Linked DNA regions of Homo sapiens: region 2 is linked to region 1. A link means that fine-mapping ties the variant in region 1 to the expression of a gene that starts in the linked region. Tissue or cell type: blood mononuclear cells. Region 1 holds a variant in brackets; the other region holds the start of a gene. All regions are shown on one strand. Distances are between the middles of the regions.

The links. PIP is the estimated chance that this variant, and not a neighbour inherited with it, causes the effect.
Region 2: it holds the start of KRT73-AS1, and the variant in region 1 is fine-mapped to the expression of KRT73-AS1 in blood mononuclear cells (TOPMed, PIP above 0.99).

What each region holds. Positions count from the first base shown.
Region 1 is chr12:52,634,245-52,637,269 of GRCh38, reverse strand. It overlaps the pseudogene KRT128P. Among named protein-coding and RNA genes, the nearest start is that of KRT2, 16 kb to the left of the region's middle. The variant C/G (reference allele first, on the strand shown) is at 1,210.
Region 2 is chr12:52,608,691-52,611,453 of GRCh38, reverse strand. KRT73-AS1 (KRT73 antisense RNA 1) reads right to left here and starts at 1,603. Exons shown (of 3, transcript NR_126005.1): 1 at 27-1,603. KRT73 (keratin 73) reads left to right here. Exons shown (of 9, transcript NM_175068.3): 6 at 125-250; 7 at 619-839; 8 at 2,173-2,207.

The DNA.
Region 1 (3,025 bases):
GAATTGCCTGAAAAGGAGGAGAAAAGAAATAGTGGAGACTGTACAATTATATTCTGTCTCGGCCTGGGCACCCACCCTCCTCCTGTCACTTTTGTCATAGTTAATCTCGTTAGCCTTGGCCTGTCCTGTCACCTTGGTCTCACTCTCCCCCTTCTGGTTTTCTGTGACCCCTGCTAAGACCTCTTTCTCAACTCTCTTTAGTGGGGCTAGTGAGGCTCCCACCTCATCCCTGATAAGACTGCCCTCTCCCTGCTTCCTCTCTTCCCCTGAAACCTGCTCAAAGTGCACTACCTCCAAGCAGGGGTCCCAATTCATGTCTCCTCAGCATTTATGGGCCCAACTCAATATTTCTGTATTGAGCTCTTGAATCAGTTGGCCTTGGTTCAAATCCTGTTTCTAATTCTTAACTAGTTGCGTCATTTGGGCAAAGTGCTTCATCTTTTAAACCTCAGTTTTCACTACTAAAAAAATGAAGATAATAACAGTGGCTGCCTCATAGTACTGTTGTGGAGATTAAAGGAGATTATCTTTGTAAAGCACTTACAGTTGTGAAACACAATAATCGGGCAATACATGATACCCGTGCTGTTGCTGTTGCTGTTGCTGCTGCTGGGAAAAGATGTGGACTTAAACATTTATCTTTGTAAAATTTCAGTGGTAAAAACTAACATTTATTTCCACTGCCCCCCCACCCCCGCCAACCCCGAACAGTTTGTATAACACCTTGGTTATGTAGCAAGGACAGGTGTCATTATCACCACATTTGACAGATAGCAAAGCTAAGGCTGAAAAGTCCACAATCACAAAACTAGGAAGTGGTAGAGCTGGCATTGGAAACCACGGCTATGGCTCTTGCATTTCACATCATTTCCACCACATATCCTACCACGTGTTCTTCCTTTGCCTGACTCTCTCCCCAGTGGCCGGGTTAGGGGCACTCAGACAGTGGGTGGGACCGCAGGGTAGGGCCTGGCTAAGCAGGAAGGGTACAGGATCATAGCATGGGGAAGACACCTCTGCTTCTCACCTGGATCCAGAGAAGGAGACTAGCTGAGAGGGGCTGTTGGGCCCTGCCAGGCACGCGTGTCATCTCACAGGTGACTTTACAGGTATGCGGACTCAGGGGAAAGAAGAGAAGGAGGGGCCCAAGACAAGAGTAAGTCTGCACTTCTCTGACCTGGATAAAACATATACAAAGAGAATCCTGAG[C/G]CCAGAATATTCTCTCAGGCAGCTGGCCAAATAGTTATGGAGTGACCGAAAGAAGGACCCAATGTTCTTGGCCTGCTTGAATGTTAAAAAAAAAAAAAAATTTATTTCCATAGGTTTTTGAGGAACAGGTGGTATTTGCTTACACGAATAAGTTCTTTAGTGGTTATTTGTGAGATATTGGTGCACCCATCACCCAAGCAGTATACACTGAACCTGATTTGTAGTCCTTTATCCCTCACCCCCTTCACACCCTTTCCCCCTGGGTCCCCAAATTCTGTGTGTCATTCTTATGCCTTTGCATCCTCACAGCTTAGCTCCCACTTCTGAGTGAGAACATACAATGTTTGGTTTTCCATTCCTGAGTTACTTCACTTAGAATAGTAGTCTCCAGTCCCATCCTGCAAATGTTGTCAATTCATTCCTTTTTGTGGCTGAGTAGTATTCCAATATATATATATATATCACAGTTTCTAAAAGAAGACCTGCTTCACCTCCCCATAGAGGAGTTTGAAGCCTTATGGGGCTTGATTGCTTCTGTTGTAAAAATTATACCTGCTTATTATTTTAATCTTGGAAAAATAGAAATATAGAAAATTTAAAAAATTCACCACTACACAAAACAACTACTGTTAACACTTTGATGTATTTTCTTTTTGAACATGCTTTTCTAAAGTATTTAGCTTTAGTCAGTTAAACAATATTTCTCTGCTCATCCTATACCTCCAGTCTTATCCTAGGCCTTCTTTTCTGTGCCTAGGATTTAGTGGTCATATTGATTATTCAATTTTGATTTTTCCTTTTCCCACTTAACATTAAAACAGAATTTTTTGGTTTGCATAAGCCCAGTAATTTTTATTAGTTATGTAATATTTCATTGGTGGACACAGTTAACTCCTAATCCCTTTTTTGGACACTTGTTTTGGGAAAATATATACAGGATACTGTGTATATTTTTGGTAGGGAGGTGGAAGTAACTCTCACCAACTGTAGAAAATTCCATTTAGTATGTGTCTCTAAATCACTTTCCTTTACAGATATCAGTTTCTAATTCATCAGTGTCTCTGTCCTAAAGCTTTAGGAAGATGTATCTCTGGTTTTAATATCACTCTGGTAGAAACTAAAAGTGCTGAAATAGCAACAATCTCAGAAAATACCCGACCTGATAGCTTTTTGGGCATAATCATACACACCTCATATTGCCTAGGTCAGCAGATAGTTGACAGGTAGACCATAATAAGAAAACCCTGCTAACTAAGCAATAGTTACTAGACTGACTGTTCCCAAGTAGAAGGCTGTATTTATTTTTTTGTCACTTTTAGTGTCAGGGTAGCCAAACCCATGAATTTGTCTTTGGCCCACTGCCAGCTCCAGGAGAGGTATAAGGTGACACCTCAGCATTCTGGCAGGGAAACATGGAGACACCTTCTTCCCACCTCTCTATGTCACTCACTGCCTTGGAGTCACTGTGAGCAGGCAGGTGTATGCTTGAGGTGCCAGAGCACAGGCTTTGGTAGTGGCTGGGTCATGCTGCTGGGAGGGTGCCAGAGACGAGCAGCACAGCCTTGGCAGAGGCTGCCACTCTTGTGGAACAGCACAGAGGGGCACGAAGCCAAGGCTATGCTGAGCCAGGCGGTTATAGCAGCTGGAGTCTCGTTAGCCCTGCGGGGAGAAAGAGCATCTCCATCATCATGGCTGGAGGCCGGGACCATGGAGGCAGACAAAGGAGCTATGGAGGTGGACAGTTTGGGGTGGGAAGCCTAGCAAGGAGGGCTTTGGTCTTGACAGTGGTTTTGGGGAGCATGGGTCTGTAGGTTCT
Region 2 (2,763 bases), 26 kb after region 1:
TGGTGAGGCGGGGGACCTGGACCCACCTCTGCCAGGCTCTGCAAGTGCAGGCACAGTCTCTGTACCAGGCTGATCCCAGCCAAGCCCTGAGTCAGTGTTCTTGCTTTGGTTCCTTTTCCTCTAGTTCCAGGAGCTGCAGCTAGCAGCCGGCCGGCATGGGGATGACCTGAAACACACCAAAAATGAGATCTCAGAGCTGACCCGTCTCATCCAAAGACTGCGCTCGGAGATTGAGAGTGTGAAGAAGCAGGTGAAGGGGACTGGAGCCTTCCTTACTCACTCCTAAGGGAGGGGTGAACTGCTTAGCACCCCCTGCCCCCTCCTTCTCTTGAGCATCCATTTCAGAATCCCCTTCTTCAAATGGAGGTCCTGCTCTCATCCCTCACCCTTAGCTCCCATCTGAAGTTTGGAACAATTGCAGATTATTTTCATAAAGCTGTGGGGCCCAGCGTAGCAAGCCTCTCAGTCTCAGGTTGACAGGACTCCACCTGGATGTGGCTGGGTCTCTGCTCCAGGACATGGGGCAGGACAGAGGAGGGCTCAACCATTGAGAGCATGGGAGAGGTGAAGCGAGGCCCAGGGAGGAACTCAGGGAGAAATGCTACCTCCTGACCCCAGTGTGCCAACCTGGAGACGGCCATCGCTGACGCCGAGCAGCGGGGGGACTGTGCCCTCAAGGATGCCAGGGCCAAGCTGGATGAGCTGGAGGGCGCCCTGCAGCAGGCCAAGGAGGAGCTGGCACGGATGCTGCGCGAGTACCAAGAGCTTTTGAGCGTGAAGCTGTCCCTGGATATTGAGATCGCCACCTACCGCAAGCTGCTGGAGGGCGAGGAGTGCAGGTGGGTGGGACCGAGGGACTGGAAGAAACTGCAAGTCTCCACCTTAAAGTTTCCCAGAGTGTGGTTGGGGGCGGGGGGGAGGGGGCGGCGAGCTGGCGATGTGTTTACTTCACCCACAAGCATAGTTTCAAACAGCATCCTGCCAGATAATGTGACAGCAATTTCCTTTACAGTTCTCTTTTGACTCTTTGGAGAAAGTCTTAGCTGGGTGCTGTTGTGTCTTTAACACCTCTCAGATGGCCAGGCGCAGTGGTTCGTGCCTGTAATCCCAGCACTTTGGGAGGCTGAGGCGGGTGGATCACCTGAGGTCAGGAGTTTGAGACCAGCCTGGCCAACATTGGAGAAACCTCGTCTCTACTAAAAATACAAAAGTTAGCTGGATGTGGTGGTGCATGCCTGTAATCTTAGCTACTTGGGAGGCTGAGTCAGGAGAATCGCTTGAACCCAGGAGGCTGAGGTTGCAGTGAGCTGAGATCCTGCTACTGTCCTCCAGCTTGGGTGACAGAATGAGACTCCATCTCAAAAACAAACAAACAAACAAACAAACAAACAGACAAAACACAAAAACACCTCTCAGACACTTACAAATATCCCCTATTGATAAAGAGACAGTAGATCTCAGGTGCAGCATCTCTGGGAAAATAATAGCATTATTTAGCCCAAAAGTTTTAAATTGTTTTCTTTTCATTATATTTATTTTTACTGCTACTTTTTTTCTTATTTGGTTAGGTAATAATACTGGTTTCTATTTACCCTGGTGATAAAAAACTTCTTTTTAAAAGAAATGCACTTTTGTCGTAAAAGGCAGAGTCAATTAAAAATACTAAATATCTAACAGTACAAGTCAAACATGGTCCTAGCAACAGTCAGAAGGGTGGCACACGAAGCATGAACATTTGAAAAACCCTGTTCTAACCAAGCACCATTTTATAACTGAGACCTGGAGAGAAGTCACTTGCCCCAAAATCATACAGTTCGTTCATTAGTAGCAACTCCTGATCCTGATCTTTCCACATATGTATTTATTCAGACAGCTGCTCACAGTAGTAAAGAAATGGGTTCAAGAGAAACCCTGCAGGAGGGACCTTGGGGGTGGTAATGTTGTTGGGGGTTCCAAAGTTGCAGGTTCCACATCTCTGCAGTGGGAAGAGTAGATTGAGGAGCGAGAGGGAGGGCTTAGAGACATGCAAGGGCAGCCAGTGCCATCTGGCAAGTGTGGGGTGCGTGAAGGCTGAGCTGGTCTGGCTGGGGATCCCCAGCCTGTGTTTAGGCAGTGAGGGCCACTATGGGAGTCCACGTGATTCAGACTCTCCTGTGCTTTTCTCTCTTGCAGGATGTCCGGAGAATATACCAACTCCGTGAGCATTTGTGAGTATTTCATGACTCTGAGGGAATACTTTTAGTCCATCAACAAACACAAAGTGGGTGGGTGTCCACCGCCCAGCCCCCTGAGGAAGAGCTTGGCTCTGCCTGTTGACCACTTGGTCACATACTCACCTTCCTTGCTGAGACCTGCGGCCTCCCCATTCAGAGCTACTTCTTCCAGGTGGAGCTAGTGCCCAGGACATTCTGATACTGCACACTAGCCTCTTTCATAGCAATCTCCTGCCTGCTGTGGTGAAACTCTCAGCCCCTCCCCTCTTCTGTCACCCCCACACCGGCTCTCCTGCATGAAGGAAACTGAGCACAGAGTGGTGCCTCCTCAATGGGAGTGGAGACTGGTGTGTGGACCACTGTGCAAGCCAGTTTAATGCTGGCCCCACAGGGTTTGGCAGTCTCTTTCTTATAGTGGGACCAGCAGAAACTCCCTAATTTTAACAATCAGGAAATTCTTTTGAAAAATACTCAGAAGGTATTGTAAAGCTAAATGCAAGAACCTGCTGGCTTATCTGATGCTCAAGCATCATCTGTCCCCTGGGGAAAG